Regions from separate parts of the Homo sapiens genome. Here region 2 is linked to region 1. Evidence: fine-mapped expression QTL. Tissue or cell type: whole blood. Region 1 holds a variant in brackets; the other region holds the start of a gene. All regions are shown on one strand. Distances are from middle to middle.

Region 1 (10,658 bases):
GAGAAACAAAAAACTGTGAAATCCCCAAGAATGGAAGATGCATGGAGCAATAAAAAGTCAGGGGGTGGTTGAAAGAAGCAAGAGCAGTGAGATTGGTGAGGGAGGAAAACCCTGAGGTCCACCCTGTTCACGTTTGAATTTTCTTCACAGGGAAGTCTTTGGAGCGTTCTAAACAGCCAATTTCCATGATCTCATTAGCATTCGTTTTTAAAGACTATCTTCTTATTGTGTGGGCAGTGGACCGCTGGGAAGTGAGAATGCAAGCAGGAAGAACAGACAGGGGTTTATTGACATATTCCAGTAAAGAATGATCAGGATGGCCAAGGGGCAGAGTGACTTGGCCAGATTAGAAAGAAGTTAGAAGTTTTGGAGATAGAATGGGCAGAAATAGCTCATGGCATAGAGAATGGTGATAAGAAGAAAGAAAATCTGACTCGTTTGCAAGTGCCACTGAATATATGGTAGTGTATTTACCAACGGGGAAGATGGGCAGATGAGCGAGGTCTGATTTTGGGGGTGGATAGAGGAAATATGGAAATCAAGGGCTCTCTTTTGAATGTGTTATGTTTGAGATGCATTTTAGATCTGTAAGTGGAGATGTCACCTAGCAGATGGTTATATAGGTTTCACTCTATGACTAGAGACAAAAAGTTGAATATCATTAGCATATAGATGGTATTTGAAGACATGGGACTGGAGGTACAGGACGTACCTAGACAGAAAGTGAGACAGAGAGAAAAAGGAGATTTGGGGTCATACTTGTGGCCAACCGACATTTTAAGACAGAGAAGAAGAGAAAATTGAGTAGGACTAGCCTGTGAGATTATTACTGGCCTGTGAGAGAATGTGGTTTCAGAGAAACCAAAAGCAGGGGTATTGCAGTGGGGCTGGATGGTGGGGTTGTGGGGTAGGAAGATATTTTAAGAAGGGAAAAGTGGGTCAGACACAGTGGCTCATGCCTGTAATCCCAGCACTTTGGGAGGCCGAGGCCAGTGGATCACAAGGTCAGGAGATAGACACCATCCTGACTAACATGGTGAAACCCTGTCTCTACTAAAAACATAAAAAATTAGCCAGGCATGATGGCACATGCCTGTAGTCCCAACTACTTGGAAGGCTGAGGCAGGAGAATTGCTTGAATCTGGGAGGCAGAGTTTGCAGTGAGCCGAGATAGTGCCACTGCACTCTAGCCTGGGCGACAGAGCGAGACTATGTCTCAAAAAAAAAAGTGAACGACTGTATCTGATGTAGCAGATAGGGCAGGTAAAATGTGAACTGAGAAATAGCCATTATATTTATAACCCAACCCTCTAACACCACACTACTGGCCCATAGTAGATGATCAATAAATGTAAGTTGAATTCATTGACTGAAAGAACTAGCCCAGGAATGGCAAATATAGAACAGTTTTAGCTTCCAAGTTACAACAATTATTGCCTTTTTGAAAATAATTGAGACTCAGCCCCAGAATCCTTAAGCACTATCGAGTAATTAGAATTGTCATGCAGATTTAATCTATTTGCCATTCCTGGTGTAGACTAAACAATCAGGACAGGACTTTTCATCAGAGTTGTTCAATAGAGCCTCATTAGCCCAGCTTCAGGAGGAACCACAAACCATCTGCTAAGAGTCTTGCAGCGGGAATTCCTGCTCTGGTGGAGCCTGAACCAGGTGATCGCTAAGGCCCTTCAGAGAGTCTGTGGTTCAGATGGCAATTCCTTCTAACATGCAGCTGTTCAAAGCACAAAGAGAAAAATCCAACCTAGCCTAGGGTTAATAAGGGCAAACTAAATCTTTCCTAAAACTTCCTTCTATGCATTTTTTCTCCCTCTTATCTTTACTGGCCTCCTGAAATGTCTTATCTGCAAAGACATGATTCTGTTCTAAATCTCTGTCTATGAACACAGTTATCATTTTTGCTTCTTCCACACGATAACATTAACCTAACTTACCCATTCAGCCATAGGCAGACTGTCTTCATCTCTAAATGATGCACTCCCCCACATAAAATAAAGGCAGACACTTTTATTCTTTAGTCCAAAGTACTTAGCATTATGAAGAGACAGCTGCTGCAGACAAATCTTGGGTCTTTGGAACCTTAATACTTTGAAATTTATTCCTCTTCACCACCTGGAGGCTCATGAGTCCATTTGTGGACTCTCCCACCTAATGCTGCCTTGCAAGTTAATGAGCAGTTGGTACATAGACATGCAAGTTATAACTCTTCTATAACTGCCTACATCCATATTGCAGTTGAAAGGGCAGAAAATTAACCACTAGAAGTGTCTCAGTGCCCTCTATCTCCTCTCACCTTTATTCATTACTTCAACGAACATGTACTGCATGCCAGATTCCACACTGTTTTCTAGAATAGAATCAAGAGGTACAGTGAGGAATAAGATTTGGTTTTCTTTCCCACCTGGGGCTCATAAATGGGCTTTACAAGTTCTATATGTCCTTCTGAAATGACATTCAAAATGCTGCGTGTGTGTGTGTGTGTGTGTGTGTGTGTGTGTGTGTGTGTGTGTCTGCCTCCAGAAAGAGGTTTATAATTTTCATCAGATTTAGAATCCAAAAGAGCTAGGGATCAATGGGAACCTAAAGTCAGCTTTGACACTTCCCTTTCTGTCATCCCAGATGACATACAAACGAATCACCAAGGATTGCCAGGTTTGTTTTTCATTTTCCCCTAAATTGCTCTAGATCTATCTCCCACTGTCCATCCCCCACCTTAGTTCAAGCTACCCTCATTTCATTAGTTAACAGCCCTGCCTCCTACATGGCATCTCTGCCATCCTCCAATCTATTCTCCATACTGAAGTCAGAGCATATTTTCAGCTCTCTAATCTGATCATTTCGACCTCTTGCTTAAAACCTTTCAATGGCTTCCCACTGCTCTGAGCATAAATGCCAAGCTATAAACATTCCCATGAGCATTTGCAATCACGACACATTGTTCTCTACTATTCTCTTCGCTCTGTGAACTCCAGCCTCGTGCAACTTCATTTTCATCTTTAAATTCTCTTTCCACTCTCCTGCCATGGGGCTTGAGCACATTCTGCAATCTCTACCTGAAAGGCTTCTTCTCCTCTCCCTTCACCAAATTATATTGTAATAATCACTTCTACCACCCACTTCCCCTGACCTCCCTGACTAGGCTAAACGAGCTATTGTAAAACCTCCTAGCTCCATGAACTTCATACTCTTTGTCCAAGTTAGAATTGTGCAAACTTTATATGATCCATTGATTAATATTTACCCTTCAGCAAACCTGACTATGCATCATTGTATCCTAGGGCTTACAGAAACACTGGATACATAGAAGGCAAATGCTTGATTAATACTCAGTGAATGAACAAATGAATAACTGAGTGGATGAATAAAGAAGTAATGTAGCAGATGCTAAAAATAAAAGAAAGCACTGAGCATTGCCACAGCACAAAAAAAGGGACACATATCTTTAGGAGGTCATAAGGGCACGGATTGTACCTCCTATATCTTTAGTGTGTCCAGAGGTTATGATGCATGCATATATGCAATGTACATTGACTGAAAATATTAAATAGCAACTAAATCTGCCTGGATGAGTGACAGGAGGCTTCAAGAAGACTTAGCATTTGACATCAGTCATAAAGGAAAACTAAAACTATGCAGATCAGGCCAGGCATGGTGGCTCACACCTGTAATCCCAGCACTTTGGGAGGCCGAGATGGGTGGATCACCTGAGGTCGGGAGTTCGAGACCAGTCTGACCAACATGGAGAAACCCCGTTTCTACTAAAAATACAAAATTAGCCAGGCATGGTGTTGCATGCCTGTAATCCCAGCTACTCAGTACGGCTGAGGCAGGAGAATTGCTTGAACCTGGGAAGCGGAGGTTGCGGTGAGCCGAGATCACACCATTGCACTCCAGCCTGCGCAAGAGGAGAGAAATTCGGTCTTAAAAATAATAATAATAATAATAATACAAAATTAGCCCAGCATGGTGGGGCATGCCTGTAATCCCAACTACAAGGGAGGCTGAAGCAGGAGAATCTCTTGAACTCCGGGAGACAGAGGTTGCAGTAAGCCGAGATCGCGCCATTGCACTCCAGCCTGGGCAGCAAGAGCAAAACTCCGGCTCAAAAACAAACAAACAAAAAAAGTATTTA[G/A]ATCAAAGGGAGAAAGAGGCAGGCAAGTGGCATTTCAGACAGAAGAAAAGGCAGGTACAAAGGCATGAAGCCACAGAAAAGGAGGAAAAGTTCTTTGCAGAAAAAAGAGATTAGGTGAAGTAAACATGGAGATACACTTCCTAGATCCTCCTTCTGAGAGGGAAAAATTTTGTTTTCCCAGATGCTGGAAACATTCGCAGAGAAACATCTCCAGCGGTCAGCTCCTCAGGGGTGGCCTGGGCTGCAGAGAGCCATCTTACCCAAGGTCACACCATCCCAGAAGCAGCCCCCTCCCCACCACTGCTCAGACATTTGGGTCCACTGAGGGAAAATCTTAGCAGCAATTTTTCTCCAGAGCTCCCACTGGGGTAGGCAGAGGCCACCATTGGTACTGCATTACCATAGTTTATCTCTTCCCTCCATCCTTCCCCTCACAGGTGTTGATCTCACCTGAACACTAAACTCTGCACTTGAGTCTGCTTCTCAGAGAACCAGACTGCAAGCCTGGGTTATGCCATGAGTGGGTTTATGCAGAGGAATCAACTAGAAAGGTAGTTAAGAGAAGGATGGTGAGGGTTCTGCAATGCTGGGCCAATAGGTATGAGCTTACGCAGTTGGCAGTGAGAGACTGGGGGCCTTGTAATCGGAGGGTGCTGAGTTTAGGGTCTTTTATTGGAAAGACTTCTCTGGCTTCTGTGCAATGACTACATTAGAAGGAGGCAGAGAGGCGTGCTAAAAGGCCATTGGGTTAGTACAGGGAGGAGAAATGTGAGTTCCAAGATGGAGAAATAACCGATCATGGAGAGGAGGGGTGGTGTTGAGCAATTTAGGAGGAAAAATCAAAAGCCCCTCATGACACATTGACTATAGGGACAGAGTAAGGATGAATGGATAATGACACAGAAAGAGTGTGCTAATTCATTCCTAGGTGTGGCAGGGAGATTACTCCTAATTTAAAATTGCAACTTGCAAGAGGAGTTCTTTCTCCCAAGGCCTTTTCCAAGGCACTCCAGGTAGCAGAGAATTCAAATGGTAGCTAGAATTCTCCTTTAGCTTGAAATACATAATAAACCAGCAATGTCTTCTACAAAAAGCATCATTAACAAAGTTTGTGTTTGTTCATCAGTTAAGATCTTGGGGCTTTTTGCCTGATATCATTAATCGTCACGCTTGCTAAAGAACATTCTTCTATCAAACAGACGGGGATTCAAATAAAAGGAGCAAACATATGAATATGCAAGAAGGAAGGCCAAATTATTAATGCAGAATGAAGAAGAATCTGGCAGGAATATCCTTCATTCGACAAGTATTTATTGAGCGTCCTCTACATGCTAACCATTATGCCAGGGGCTGGGAATACAATGACGAGCAAAATGCTGCAGATTTCATGCCAGGAAGCAAGCACACATCTGAAGGAATTTTACATAAATACATAATGTGTTGCTGGTTCCAGCATGCCCCTCTTCATCGGTTTAGTTCAAATGTACTCCTATAACTCTTACTTTTGCACTGAAATTTCCTTCTGTTTTTTTTTCTCATTCATTGTGGCATAATAGAAAGAGTAGACAGGCATACCAATTGCCTTACTAATCATATGACCTTGAGTAAATTACACATCCTTCCAATGGGGCCAATTATACCAATCTCCGAGGGTATGCTTGAAAATACATTAAGATACTGTGTACCACAGCCAGTTAGCTATACAACATATCATATAAGCCTTTATGTGAATTCAACTATACCAAATTGGGATGGGAATGAGGGTAAGTGAGAAATAATAATTTAAATATATGACAAGGGCTGACTATATAATTTGTAGGGACCAGAGGAAAGTAAAATTGAGAGACTCCCTATTCAAAAATTAAGAATTTCAAGACAGTGATAGCAGAGCATTGGGCCAAGCACAGGGTTCTTCTGAGTGTGAGGCCCTTTACAATGGCACAGAATGCACAACCATGAGGTCGGCCCTGGACTTTCTTACTCCCCTGCATATCTAACATGGTGAATAAGTTCTATGATCAATATGATCTTAATTCTAAAATATATGTCTTGTTTACTTGGTTTTTGTTCACTTTGGCCGCTAACCAGAAGCGACCTTATTTTCATGGGCATAAAACCATATATGCAATCATTTGGCTTAAGGGATTTTCAAGGGTAGTTGTATTAGTCCATTTTCATGCTGCTGATAAACACATACCTGAAACTGGGAACGAAAAGAGGTTTAAGTGGACTTGCAGTTCGACGTGGCTGTGTAGGCCTCAGAGTCATGGTGGGAGGCGAAAGGCACTTCTAACATGGCAGAGGCAAGAGACAAATGAGGAAGAAGCAAAAGCAGAAACCCTTGATAAACCCATCAGACCTTGTGAGACTTACTCACTATCACGAGAACAGCACAGGAAAGACCAGCACAGGAAAGACCGGCCCCCATGATTCAATTACCTCCCCATGGGTTCCTCCCACAATATGTGGGAATTCTGAGAGATACAATTCAAGTTGAGATTTGGATGAGACACAGCCAAACCATATCAGTCGTTTTTACTCTATTTTCCCATTACACACTGGTTTCCTAAAGCCTGCAGGAGGTGAAAGCTCACCATAGCTGTCATTTCTGCTGAGCCTTTGACAGTAGGAGTCAACCTTGTGCCCAAGTCTGGATCACATGCTTTGCAGTGAGAACTTCATTCAAGCCACACAGCAAGCCTGCAGGATAAATAATACCATCCTCATTCTCTAGAGGAGGGAGAAACAGAGCCTCAGAGCAGGGAAGCAATTTGCTTAAAGTTACCCAGAAAATAAGTGGCAGATTTGGGATTCAAATACGGGTCTTTGGAGCACACTGTCCACATTCATTCACTGATATCTTAATAAATGGTTGTTCCTTCCAACTCTCTTCTGCAAATCTTGCCCTAACCTTTTGAAATGAAGAATTGTTTGGCAAATTAGGAACCTGATTTTCTGCATCCTGGTAGCAGAGAATGGCTTGCCAATTCAGTTCAGGCACGTAATGCTGGAGGCAGAGCAACAGAAGAGCCTGAAAGTCTGACCTGTGCTTCTAGAGCTCTGATTGCCACATGATGAAAACTCAGGGCTGACATCACCAGTCTCCAGCCTCCCAAACATGAGCCCATGTGGAGAGAATGTTATAAAGAGGAAAAAAATAAAGGTCATGTTAGAGTGAATGATAGGTATAATTAATGTTACTGACAATGAAAAGCTTAGGTGCTGAGAGAAAAATGAGTCAGCAGTGAGCTTGATGTTGAAACTACATGCTGCCTTGTTGCTCAAATACTTACCTATTAGGAAAAAAGAGCAATTTCCTGATCAATGCACACAAAATTCTGGGTTGAGAACACTAAGTGAAAAGTGGGAAAAAAGCCACTTGTGTGTTTTATTTCCAGCATGTGCACAGCCACATTTATGCATAATTTTGGGTTTGTCATTCCCCTTTATGAGTTTTTGTGATCTCAGTGTTTTAGCATGAAGGCCTTTCATAATCTGATCGTATCTTCCCTTTCTATGATCGTCCTCCCTAGTCTCTTCTCTAAATATCCAAATATTACTTCGTCATTCCAGAAGCAGCTCTACCTAGACATGAAGCCTTCCCTGGTCTCCAAATCAGAAATGCAGGCCATGAATGGGCATGAGCTGTTTGTTGAATGATGAGAAATTCAGTTTATTCCCTGATTTTAACTGGGAATGGCCTCATTCACCTCTCCACCTGGCAGGCATCTCCTCTCCATATTGACTCAATCACCTCTTTCTCCAGGTGTCCTCAGCACTTACTTCATACATCTATTATTGAGCTCAACAAGATGCACTGTACGACATATCTTTCCATTCCCCTAATAATATCTGATGTATCACTGAATTAATACATGGGGGTGTCTTCCCCATTAAACCATGGGATTTGTGAGAGTAACATCTTTATATTGCTCATCGTTGCAGCTCCCTCTGTGCTTGGCATAATATTTTGAACAAAATATGTGCTCAATAAATATTAACTAGATGTATTTACATCCATCAGGATTGCTTTTAATGATTACAGATCTGGCTTTTGGTGCCTCTTGTAAACAGAGGCAGTCTGATTATTTGATAACACAAAGATCTTACCAGACTGCAGGAGGGGTGTGAGGGAAAATATGTTCTGGACTGACACAGATGCTGCTGAATTAATAATTAAAAATTGCGTGCGATGTATAAATGATAGAACATCAAATTAGAAAGGACAACACAATGGTCTGTTTCCTGTTGAAAAAGAATTATCTGGTCCACTAATGAAGTAGAGCCATTAGTCTTGGCCATAGGAAATTAATAGCTACCTTCTTGTAGTGACTTGCCATGTGCCAAGTGTTTGCTGAGCCCTTTAGAATATTATCACATTAAATCCTTCCAACAGCCCTATGAAGAAGGTAGTACTTGTATCATCCCTTCCATATTCCTTTTTGGAGAGCAAGCTTGGGAGAAGTATGATAACTTGCCTAAAATTGCAGAGCCATGAAAGAACTGGATTCAAATCCAGGTATGTTGCTTCCAAAGTCCATGTTCTAAACTAGTCTGCTCTGTAGGTAAAATAAGGATGTCAGGTGATGTTTTTCAGCTCAGTTATAAGTGGAATCATCTATTCCATAGACTCCAGTCTCCTCATTCTACAAATGATAAAACTGAGACTCAGAACAATAAAGGAATGTAGGATCTTAGAATCTCATGGCTGAAATGAACATTAAAATTCATCTAGTCAAATATTCCTACATCCACCTGCTGACAATGTCTAACAACTTTGTTGAGATATAATTCACACATCATACAACTCACCCAATTTAAGTTACAATTCAGTAGTTTTTAATATATCCACAGTTATATGTTGATTACCACAATTTAATTTTAGAACATTTTATCACCCCCAAAAGAAATCTCATATCCATTAGCTGTGCTCCACATCCCAGCCCCAACCCCAGCCTTAAACAACCATGAATCTGTCTCCATGGATTTGCCTATTCCAAATATTTCATAGAAATTGAACTATACAATATGTGGTCTCCTGTGCTTGTCTTCTTTCACTTAGCATAACATATGCTTTTGAATATCTTGAAGTCACCTGAATACACAGCAGCAAATTTTTGGCAGCAACAATGAGTGGCTGGTGGGTGGGGAACATTTCCTCCAAATAATCTTCATTAGCCCCACCCCAATAGCTACCCCAAAATAAAAATAAAATTTAAATTAAGAGAGTATGTTTGATATTTGTTATGGTTTGAATTGTGTTTCCCCCTAATATTCATATGTTGAAGTTCTAACCCCAGTATCTCAGAATGTGAGCTCATTTGGAAACACAGGCTTTACAGAGGTAATGAAGTTAAAATGAAGTCATTAGAGTGGGCTTATATGATGGGTGTCCCCAGACACACGGGGAGAATGCCATATGAAGACTGGGTTTTGCCACCACAAGCCAAGGAACTATCAGATGTTAGGAAAGAGGCCCAGAACAGATCCTTCTCTCAGATGAAACGAACCCTGCCAACAGCTTGATTTTGGACTTCTGGCCTCCAGAACTATGAGAGAACCCATTTCTATTGTTCAGGCAACTCAGTTTGGGGTATTTTGTTGTAGCAGCCCTAGCAAACTAATACAACATTTAAACACAGCTTCTGCACAAATTTCCTAGTCATCGTCTCTGACAAGTACAATGCTACTCTGAGGCTCCTCGTCAGGCAAAATCTGAAAGTCAACATTTGTTTAAAATCAAATCCATGAGATTTTCACCTAAGCCTGGACTTCTTTCAGAGCTCCCTATTTCAGGCAATGGCAACACTAGCCAAACAAATATGCAAGCCAGAATTCTAGAGTCATCATTGACTTCTCTTCTCTTTTATGCCTACTTTCTCACAACACACACACACACACACACACACACACACACACACACACACATTTTAGGTCAAGAGTATTTCACAAGAGAATTCTATCAAGCCTATGAAGACAAATCAACCAAATATCTTTTAGAATGTTCCAGATCATTAAAACCTAAACCTCGACATTCCTTCATGAAGCCAGCAAAATGTTAGAATCTGAAAAAAACAAACAAACAAAAAGAAAAAAATGGAAACGTAATAAAGGATCTCTATACAAACCGTAGCTAAGACACAAGGCTGCATAATCTATGGGTGTTTAAAAGAATAATATAGCATGACCAAATACAAATTGATTCAGGAATTTAAGCCTACTTCCTTTTACTCTACTGGTCCACAATGTTATCATATGAGAAAATTAGAAATGGCCGACATGATTTGCCTGTTAAAACACCGAATTGCACTTTACTCTATAACCTAATCTACTCTCGATATTTCTAAATATTTTTTCATTGTTTTCCAGGAATCTTTAAAAGTCCTTTGGCACCAGACACCATGTTTTCCCCCTTTTTAAATACACTAATGGTTTTGCCAAACCTTAATCTATTGAAATGTCGTCTGCACAGAGTCTCTTGCCAATATAGATGCAGAAAACATACTCA
Region 2 (10,658 bases), 110 kb after region 1:
CAATTTTCCCAACAGCATGGCTCAATTTGTATCTCTGTGTTACATTTTGGTAATTCTTGCGTTACTTAAAGCTTTGTCATTATTATTATATCTATTTTGGGGATCTGTGATCATAATATTTAATGTTACTAGTGTAACTGTTTTGGGACATCACAAACCACAACCATATAAGACAATAATTTAATCAATAAAGGCTTTGGGCTTCCCTATTCCCTGAGACAAAACAATATTGAAATTAGGCCAATTAATAACACTCTAACGACCTCTAAGTATTCAAGTGAAAGGAAGAGGTACATGTCTCTCACTTTAAATGAAAAGCTAGAAATAATTAGGCTTAGTGAGGAAGGTATGTGGAAAGCTGAAATAGGTTGAAAGCTAGGCCTCTTGCACCAAGTAGTTAGTCAAGTTCTGAATGCAAAGGAAAAGTTCTTGAAGGAAATTAAAAGTACTATTCCAGTGAACACGAGTGATAAGAAAGTGAAACAGCTTTATTGCTGATATAGAAAAAGTGTGAATGGTCTGGATAGAGAAAATTAAACCAGCCACAACATTCCCTTAAGCTGAAGCCTACTCCAGAGCAAGGCCCTAACTCTCTTCAATTCTGTGAAGGCTGAGAGAGGTGAGGAAGCTGCAGAAGAAAAAAGTTCAAAGCTCGCAGAGGTCGGTTCGTGTTTAAGGAAAGAAGCTGTCTTCGTAACATAAAAGTGCAAGGTAAAGCAGAAAGTGCTTATGGAGAAGCTGCAGCAAGTTATCTAGAAATCTAGCTAAGATAACTGATGAAGGTGGCTACACTAAATAAGTTTTCACGTAGAAAAAACAGCCTTCTATTGGAAGAAGGTATCATCTAGGACTTTCATAGCTGGAAAAGTCAATGCCTAGCTTCAAGCTTCAAAAGACAGACTCTTTTCTTAAGGGCTAATGTAGCTGGTGACCTTAACTTGAAGCCAATGCTCATTAATCATTCTGAAAATCCTAGGGCCCTTAAGAATCATGCTAAGTCTACTCTGCCTGTGCTTGGTAAATGGAACCACAAAACTTGGAAAGAGCATAGTTTACTGAACATTTTAAGTCCACTGTTGAGATCTACTGCTTAGAAAAGAAGATTGCTTTCAAAATATTACTGCTCATTGACTATATACCTGGTCACCCAAGAGTTCTGATGGAGATGTACAAGAAGATAATTGTTGTTCTCATACCTGCTAACCCAACTTCAATTCTGCAGCCCATGGATTCAGGAGTAATTATGAGTTTCAAGTATTATTATTATTATTTTTGAGACAAAATCTGGCTCTGGCTATAAGACTGGAGTTCAGTGGCACTATCTCGGCTCCCTGCAACTTCCGCCTCCCAGGTTCAAGCGATTCTCCTGCCTCAGCCTCCCAATTAGCTGAGATTACAGGCATGCGCCACCACACCCAGCTAATTTTTGTATTTTTAGAAGTGAATGGTTTTCACCATGTTGGCAAGGCTGGTCTTGAACTCCTGACCTCAAGTGACCTGCCCGCCTTGGCCTCCCAAAGTGCTGAGATTGTTTTGAAATAAAGCTGCTATTAAGCAATTCTTCTAATAATGCAACTAACTCCTCTTTATAATTCTATTTTCATTTTAAAATTTAAAATCACTAAGTTGTCACCAGGACAGCCTCAAGTATTATTTTAGAAATAAATTTCATAAGGCTATAGCTGCCATAGTGATTTCTCTGATGGATAAGGGCAAAGCAAATTGAAAACCTTCTGGAAGGGATTCACCATTCTAGCTGCCATTCAGAATATGTGTGACTCATGGGAGGTCAAAGTGTCAACATTAACTGGAGTTTGGAAGAAGCTGATTCCAACCCTCTTGGATGACTTCGAGGGGTTCAAGACTTCAGTGAAGGAAGTTACTGCAGATGTAGTAAAAATAGCAAGAGAACTAGAATTAGAAGTGGAGCCTGAGGATGTGACTGAATTGCTGCAATATTACAATAAAACTTGAATGGAGAAGGAGTTGCTGCTCATGGATAAGCAAAGAAAGTGGTTTCTTGAGACGGAATCTACTCCTCATGAAGATGCTATGAACACTGCTGAAATGACAAAAAAGATTTAGAATATTACATAAATTTAGATGATAAAGCATTAGCAGGTTTTGAGAGGACTGACTAATTTTGAAAGAAGTTCTGTGGACAAAATGCTATCAAACAGCATTGCATGGTACAGAGAAATCTTTCATGAAAGGGAGATTCAATTTATGTGACAAACTCTATCTTTGTCTTAAGAAATTGCCACAACCACCTCCGCCTTCAGCCACCACCATGCTGATCAGTCAGCAGCCATGAATGTCGAGACAAGACTCTCCACTGACAAAAAGATTATGACTTACTGAAGGCTCAGATGATCATTAGCACTTTTTAGCAGTATTTTTAAATTAATGTGTGTATATTTTTCAGAATAATGCTACTGTGCACTTATTTAAATGTAATTACAAGTTATGTTTAGACTATAATTGAGAACTTATGTTTAGAGTATAATATACTGTAAACATAACTTTTACATGCACTGGGAAACCAAAAAATTGGTGTGACTTGCTTTATTGGGATATTTGCTTTATTGTGGTAATCTGGAACAAAACCCACGGTATCTCTAGGTTATGCCAGTAATTTAAAGGTAGGACAAGCAACATGTTCTGATGGCTTGGATATGATGCAAGAAGGACAGAAGTGGATTGAAGTGAAGAATGACTCCAGGGTTTTTGGCCTGAGCAACCAGAACAATGGAGCGCCACAGGGATTGGGCCTAGTGAGGCAGGGAGTTTAATTTTTGACGTGTTTAATTTGAGGTATCTATGAGACACTCAGTCAAATGGGCAAGTCGTTCAGGCAATGTAAAAGCAGAAAAAGAAGGCAGTAGCTAAAGGAGGGAGAATATAAGGTCAAAAGGTTTTGGCTTTACTTTTCAAAGGTGAGAACTAGTAAAGCAAGTTTTTGTGCACATGGAAGTGTTTCCTGGAGAGGAAAGAGGTCATGATGAAGGACAGAGAGAGAAAACTGTTGGAGCCCATGTCTTGAGTAGGTTAGAGGTAGGATCTGCTCCGCCAGTGGAGAGGCTGGCCTTAGACAGGAGTATGGGCAGATGGGCCATCCATTGTATCGAGAGGGAAGGCAAGGTGTGCAGGGACAGATGCAGGGAGACTGTGGAAGTTTTCCTGTGGTTGCTTCTTTTTTCTCAGTGAAATAAGCATGTAGCTCAGCAGCTGAGAGTGCTACATGCTAGCAGATGCATGTAGGAGAGATGTGACAAGAGGTTTTCAGATTGAGCAGAATGTTTGAAATGGTCTAGGACAGTGGTTTTTCAGTTCATAATCTGATAGAGGGTGTTAAAACCAACTTTGTAATTTGAGATCAAACGTGATTTTAAAATGAAAATAGAATTATAAAAAGGAGTTTGTTGCATTATTAAAAGAATTGCTTAATAGCAGCTTTATTTCAGTTGCATGAGTGTGTACTTGCACATATATTGGGTTGTAGCAAAAATACTTTTAAAAATACTTGCCCAGGACAGTGGGAGTAAATGAATAAGGGACTGTCAAATACAAAGTCAAGGTCCTAGTTAATGATCATGAGTCAAAATATTTTCATGTAAAAAACCAAAAAAATCATTGAATGGACTCATAAGATCTTGGCATGGAAACTGCTAGAGGACCATAGTCCCTCCTCAGTATTTGCTGCTCCTTCTCCCTACCCCACTCCACTCTCCACCCTAGGAAACCTTTTCATTTGAATATTTTCAATAAGGGCAAGATCACCAGCTTACAAGATGTCAGAAAGTAACTTTCTGCTCTAAAAAAATGGGGCCCTCACAAAAGTAGTGAGTAGAGGCCCTGGCAGGATTTGGAATTTGGTGTATTTAATATGAAGTTTGACATTATTATGTAATAACAAACTTGATGGCTTTTCCCCGTTTCAGAGAGCTCTAAATCCTCTAAGACAAAACTAGTACCAGAGCACTAAGAAATCTTGTTTTTGTTCAAAACTCTAGCCCAGAAAGGCACCAGTTAGCTTTTAAAAGTATGTGCTCTCTCCTCTTTACTAACTGCGGTGTTAGTGGATAATTGAGCTAAGGTTTATACCTGTATTTTCCCCCTATTTCAAGATTTGTTGTTGGATCTGCAAATGATTCCAATCAAATACAACTGTACTTGGAAAAAAATCATCCGTTGTTAAGACTTTACATTCCTTAGTTGCAGAAGTAGTTTTTTTTCCTGCACAATACCTTTTAAAAAATGAATATTTAATATGTCAATATATACTCTGAAAATAACCATTTATATTTTAAATTCTGAGCTCAGGTTATTTTCTAGACATTGTAATTTAGAATAAAAATACTTCTCCAGTTCTACATTTTGCCTGACTGTTAAAAATGATTTTGAGATTAATAAGTTGAACCAATTTTCTATTCACCTGACCAAATTCTGAACCATTTGAGTTTTTTAAAAAGTACTTTTTCCTTATTGTAAAGGCAACATAAAACTTGGTTCATTGGACAGGATAGCAGAGATAAACATTATACATGAAGTATAGTTCCCTGGGGCAATGTTGCTCTCTTTCTACCATGTTTATTTCGATTTATATAAATTTGAGACACTGAACAGAAGTAGAATTCAAATAGAGAATGAGGACTTATAAAAATGTACACTCTGCCTACATCAGTAAGAGTATGCTAATTTATAAAATTAAATATTTAATCTTAGTTCACTTGTAAACCAAAATCAAGTAAAGTCTGAATCCACCTTCTATTGCTTTGGGGGTTTGAGTCTATATTCTAGGATTCATTTAATAGTTTCATTTCTCTAAGCATCAAGCAAAACAGTTAAAATTACAAAACAGAAACATAAAGTTCACCTCATCATGTAGTATGGATCACTCTGTTATTCTTTATCTAGACCTTCAAATACTTTATGTAAAATGTTTCTATACAAAAGGAAACACAGGATTAGTTCCTCCTCTAATGCTTCTAAAGAGCTCTACCATGGAAAGCTCTCTCCCTTCCATTTTGCAAGTCTCAACAAGTCTGCTGCTGAGTCAGAACCTCCTTTTTTCCCTGATGTAAGAACTATTTCTCCCTTGAAAATTCATAAAGCTTAGGAATAAATTAGAGTCTCCCTGGGGGGAAGGGGCGGGGACGCCGGAATGAATGTGGTGGGGAGGAGTCCCACGCTGCAGCCCTGATGGCACACGAAAGGCTTTTATGAAGCGGAGCTGGCCCGGGGTTACTATGGGAGCTCGCCGTGGAACCCGTTCCACGCATCCGAGTGTGTAAATAACCACGCGGAGCGTGTTTGTTCCAGGGACTTTGTTCCTTCTTACCCAAGTGAAAATGCCTGGAATATAGCCGAGGCTTCATGTTTACCCTACAGAAACACCCTCGGCGGCTCTACGACGTCGGTGACAGCACTCCTACCAGCGCCTAAAAACAGAAACAAGCTTAGAGGGCGCTACCTAGGGCTACAAGGAGGCCCTAGATCGGGGACTCGGGGTCTAGAGGTGCGCGGCGAGGCGCTCAGCGGACTTCAAGCCGGCAGAGCCCAGACGCTAGTTCACCACAGGACCCCCGGGCTGGGCCGGGCTCCCGCGTTGCGCTGGGGGCCCCTCGGGCGCCTATTTCTACGCGGGTCGCACAGTGCAGGCGCCGGTCGGGGTCCCGGGCCTCAGTTTCCCCCGCGGGCCAGCCCCGCTCTGGGAAGCCCGAGTGGTGCAGCAGGGCTTCTCCCCACCCAGGGCGGAACCGAGGTGACAGGAAGGAGGAGGCACCGCGAGGGGCGGAGACGCGTGCGACCCAGGCAGACTCTGCGCGGATCCCGCGCCAAGGAGGGGCCGTTGCCCAGGAACCGTCCCTCCCTCCCGCGCGTGCTTGCCCTCGTGCGCGCGCCCGCCCAATGCTCCCGACCACTGTTTGCCAGCCGACCCCCACCCCAACCGGCCTGTCCATTTCCCCGGGAGCGGAGAGACCCAACGGGACACGCCGCTCGCTCCCGCCCTCCCGGGAGCGCGAGCGCGCCCTCGGCTGCGTCTGCATAGTAATGAGGGGCGGGGAGGGGCGACGGGGACGCGGTGGCCTCGCGCCCGCGCGTGCCGGGACGCACCGCGGGGGGCGGCGCGATTGTGAGGTGGCGCTGACGCACGTTCCGGGGTTCTTAAGCGGCCAGGGCGGCTACGGCGACTGCGACGGCGGCGGCGGCGGCGATCGCCGCGAGGGGTGGTGGGGCCGAAGTCGGTGCCCCCTGGCTCAGTCACGGTGTCCCTCTCTCACTGACTCCCCCTCCTTCCACCACGGCCGCGCAACCCCAGCGCCGGCGGCTTCCTAGGTGGGGCAGGGGACGAGGAGCGTCTCCTCCCGCTGCCGGCGGCCTGATAAATGAGGGATTTCGGGTTTGGGGTGCTGCAGACCGCCCCGCTCCGAAGTAGCAGTCCTGGGCCCCTGTTCTGCGGCGAGGCGTATGGTCCTTACGCCGTGGGGTCCGTCAACCCGCTGCCCTCCGCCACGCCCTTCGGCCCACTGTCGCCACCACCGTTGCCTGTCACCGGCTTCTTAGAGGCCGCCTCCCCCTTCTCCGTCCCCCTCGGCGGCGGCGCGGGCAGCCCGGCCGCCGCCGCTTCCTCTTCCTCCCCGTTCCTGGCGCATCAGCAGACCATGCAGGATGAGCTGCTTCTGGGGCTGACACAGCAGCCGGCGCGGCCGCTTTCGGGGGCGGCGGCCACGGAGAAACTCCCCGACCACCACCCCGGCGGCGGCACGATCGCGGGTGTGACCCACCTCCTCCCCTCCCAGGACTTCAAACCGAGTCTGCACCACCCCTCCTCCTCCTCCGCCTCCTCCTGCTGCTGCTGCCGCACCTCCTCCCCGCAGGACTTCAGTAAGCGGCAGCAGCAGCAGCTGAGCAGCCAGAAGAGGAAAGAGTTCAGCCCTCCCCACCTTCCCCACCCTCCGGACTCGAAGCCGCCGCCGCCGCCTCCGCCGCTCCACTGCCCCGGTCGGTTCAGCCCGCCGCCGCCGCCAGCCGGCCCGCTCCTCCAGCCGGCGCAGCTCGCTCAGCGCCAGCAGCAACAGCCGCCGCAGCAGTTCAGCCTCCTGCATCAGCAGCACCTCTCGCCGCAGGACTTCGCCCCGCGGCAGCGTCCGGCAGACCTGCCCCCGCTCCCGCAGCTCCCTCCCTCGCCGCCTGCAGCCCCGCGGCGCCGCCACGGAGGCGCGGGCAGCCCTCGCAAGACCCCAGCCGCGGGCGAGGGCAGCGCCGCCGAGTCCCCCAATGCGGGCTTGGCCTCCTCGACGCCGGTGAACCCCGCGCCGGGCTCCATGGAGTCCCCCAACCACCCTCTGCTCAACAGTCCCAGTAACCTCCTGCCCGGAGGTGCGCTTGGCGCGGGCGCCTTCAGCAGCCTGCAGAGCCCGGACCTTCCACACCCGGGCGGCGGCGGCGGCGGCGGGGGCGGGGGGCCCCCAGGAGGCGGAGGGGGAGGCGGCTCCGCGTCGCCGCCGCCGCTGCCCGGCTTCGGCACCCCCTGGTCGGTGCAGACCGCGTCGCCGCCACCCCAGCCCCAGCAGCCGCCGCCGACCCAGCCGCAGCAGCAGCCGCCGCCACCCCAGCAGCCGCCCCAGCCGCAGCCGCAGCCGCCCGGCTCGTCTGCCACCACCCCGGGCGGCGGCAGCGGCGGCTCGCTCAGCGCCATGCCGCCGCCCAGCCCCGACTCAGAGAACGGCTTCTACCCCGGGCTGCCGTCGTCCATGAACCCGGCCTTCTTCCCTAGCTTCTCGCCCGTGTCGCCGCACGGCTGCACTGGGCTCAGCGTTCCGACGAGCGGCGGCGGCGGCGGCGGCTTCGGCGGCCCCTTCTCGGCTACCGCTGTGCCCCCTCCGCCGCCGCCCGCCATGAATATACCTCAACAGCAGCCCCCGCCGCCCGCGGCGCCGCAGCAGCCGCAGAGCCGGAGGTCGCCCGTCAGCCCGCAGCTCCAGCAGCAGCACCAGGCGGCGGCCGCCGCCTTCCTGCAGCAGAGGAACTCCTATAACCACCACCAGGTACGGCGGGCGGCGGCCTGGCCGCGCCGCGGGACCGGGAGACCATGGGCGGGGGACGGAGGCGGGGGCAGGGCAGCCGGGGACCCGACCTTAGCCCCGAGAGAAGCCGCGACGGGGGCCACTCGCCCAAGTGAGAGTGGAACTGAGGGCGGACAACCGTGACAGGACTCGGAACCCCAGCCCCCGGTGGGTTGGGAGGGCAGTGGCCACCGTGGGCTGTGGGGGCGTGGGAGACGAGTTCGCGCTGGGAGCCGCGGCTGGCCGGGCGCCCCCTCGAACGTCCCGGCGCAGCAGTGGGGACTGGGGCAGGGGCCGAATAGCGCCGGGGCCGCGGGCGGCCGGGCGCGGCGTCTCAACCCGGCCCTCCTAGCTGGCGCACCCCGGGATCCGCCCTGTGCCCTGGGCCTGGAGGGCCGCCGCCCCGGACCCCCGACGCGGGGAGGCGCGGCGAGGACCGGGGGCTGGCCGGGGGCCTCGGAAGAGCGGCCGTGGGAAGTGAACTTGGGCAGGGGAAAAATGATTGCTGGAGAAGGTGCGTGCGGAGGAGCCCAAGACTCTGTCTCGCTGTCCAATGAGGGAAGGCGGAAAGGCTTTTTTTTTTCTTTGGAGTTTGTTTATTCTTATTTGGCCGGCGGTGATCTCGCCTTGAAGCCTCAGCCCCTCGGGCGGTCAGTCGAGCCGCTCCCAAAGCTCCGCCCGATCAACCTGCTGGCAGCGCCGCACCCTGGGCCGCCGGCCCAGGAGGGAGTCGGGAGGGAGCGGCCGACCGCCCTCCTCGCAGGACCTGGTTCCCGCGGGGCCGCCTCCTTGGCTGTCACAGGACTGGGAAAGAGAAACTGTTAGTGACCGCTCGGGTTCAAACCGAGATATCCCACGAATGTCTTAGTTTCTGTGCTTTTCAATGTTGGGGTCATGTTTTGTGGGTTTTAAGACAAAACTGAACTTGGATCTGGGATTGGTGTGTTTCCTCGTAGACTTTCGGTACATTTTTTGGTTGCCTTAACCTTCTACAAGGGAATATGTGGGCCGTGTGTATTTTAAGTAGGTAATATTGTGAAATGACACTGGGCAGAATTTTTATTTTCCGGATCTTTTTTGATTCAAGATCTTTTTTGTTATTCCCTCAATACAATTTTTGGGTGACCGCTAGATTGGTAAATTGGCATTGAAAGAGTGTCTTGTTGGTTTTGAATCTTGTTAGCATTTGTTGCAGAGTTCATTCTGTTTAAGTCCATTTTCTATTTTCGTGATTAAGGATTGACAGAGACGCAAAATATGACCTTAACCCCATAACTTTTTCAGTTGACCAAAGTTTTCAAGGATTAGTCTTTTTAAAGTGAATATTATCTAAATTAACCCAAGTGAAAGTTAACAGTTTATCTAAGTTAACCAAAGTGACAGTGAACAGTTTTTGTTGAATCACTGATTTCTTTCTTAGAAAAGAGAATGTGGCCTATGAGGATTGAAAATAGGGATTTTGAAATAATGTTCCACTTTTTCATGATTTTTATAACCCTCAGCAACTGTCTTTTGTGTCTCAGGATCTTCATTTTGTTATCTGGAAACTTGCCCACAGAAAATTATCTGTAGGTAATTTTGTATTTACTTAAAGTTGTGGTACAGAGCGTTGGAAGAACATATACCATGATCCATATTTAACTGTAATTTGCTTTTGGACAAAAGATGGGTCTAGCCATGGAGTGTGAGAGGTCACACAGCTTTCATATGGAATTTTAGATCACTGGAAGATAACTTTGAGCATTAAATCATTTAATAAGGAGAGTAAGGCCCTCAAGAATGAAGTGGTTTGTCCATGGCTCTGTAATTATGCTTTGGACCTCTGTGGAAGAGGAAAGAGTAATAATATACTCATGATTATGTTAGCATTTAAAAGTGTTTAAAAATTGGTGCTGTAGATCAGGAGTTTCTCTTTTAATTGTCTTACAAAAAGCAGGTTCAATTTTAAGAGAACCATATTTATTTGTAGTAACTGTATGGTTCATACTTCTTTAGCTACATCTTAACACCAAAGTATTAAAGTATAAACTTACTGACAGTAGAATTACCAGCAATGAATACTTCTTAAAAAAAAAAAAAACCCAAAACTACAATTATTAGCGTTTTGATGGATTTACCATTCTTTGATGATTTGACTTGTCTTGCCACAGGTTTGAGATTAGGATGTAATTTACTTTTGAAAATGAATCAACTTGATGGAGACTTGTATCAAGATCTCTAGTGGAATAATCAAAGCATATAGTTAATTAGCAGTATACCTCAGTGGATCCACCTATGGGCAACATCAGATAATTGCTTCACAGTTTATGGATAATTAAGTGAAATAAAAACAATTAAGACAAACTATGCTAAAACTGGAATAAAATGCCTTAACAGTTAAATAAACAATGCAGAAAAATGACATAGTTTCTATACTGTCCTTATTTCAAAAGGCGATTTTAATTTGTACAAGAGTAATTCCCACTTTTGTAGTAGTGCAACTTGTTTTGGAAACATAAAGTCTATATATTTCACTTGTATGAGTAGGATATTTTAATTAACAAAGACCATATTTTTAGTTGTGTGCCTAGCATAATTAATATGGTTGCT

The links.
Region 2: it holds the start of CPEB2, and the variant in region 1 is fine-mapped to the expression of CPEB2 in whole blood (TOPMed, PIP 0.98).

What each region holds. Positions count from the first base shown.
Region 1 is chr4:14,881,712-14,892,369 of GRCh38, forward strand. It overlaps LINC00504 (long intergenic non-protein coding RNA 504), which reads right to left and starts at 6,458. Exons shown (of 7, transcript NR_126435.1): 1 at 6,348-6,458. The variant G/A (reference allele first, on the strand shown) is at 4,151.
Region 2 is chr4:14,996,285-15,006,942 of GRCh38, forward strand. It overlaps CPEB2 (cytoplasmic polyadenylation element binding protein 2), which reads left to right and starts at 6,197. Exons shown (of 12, transcript NM_001177382.2): 1 at 6,197-8,051. The coding sequence starts at 6,390. It overlaps CPEB2-DT (CPEB2 divergent transcript), which reads right to left and starts at 5,761. Exons shown (of 8, transcript NR_038857.1): 1 at 5,654-5,761; 2 at 5,342-5,441; 3 at 4,877-4,945. C1QTNF7-AS1 (C1QTNF7 antisense RNA 1) reads right to left here. Exons shown (of 6, transcript NR_125911.1): 5 at 10,187-10,286; 6 at 8,658-8,873. RefSeq lists enhancers at 5,186-5,235, 8,077-8,643 and silencers at 5,476-6,335, 6,836-7,145, 7,196-7,345, 7,446-7,655, 8,036-8,635.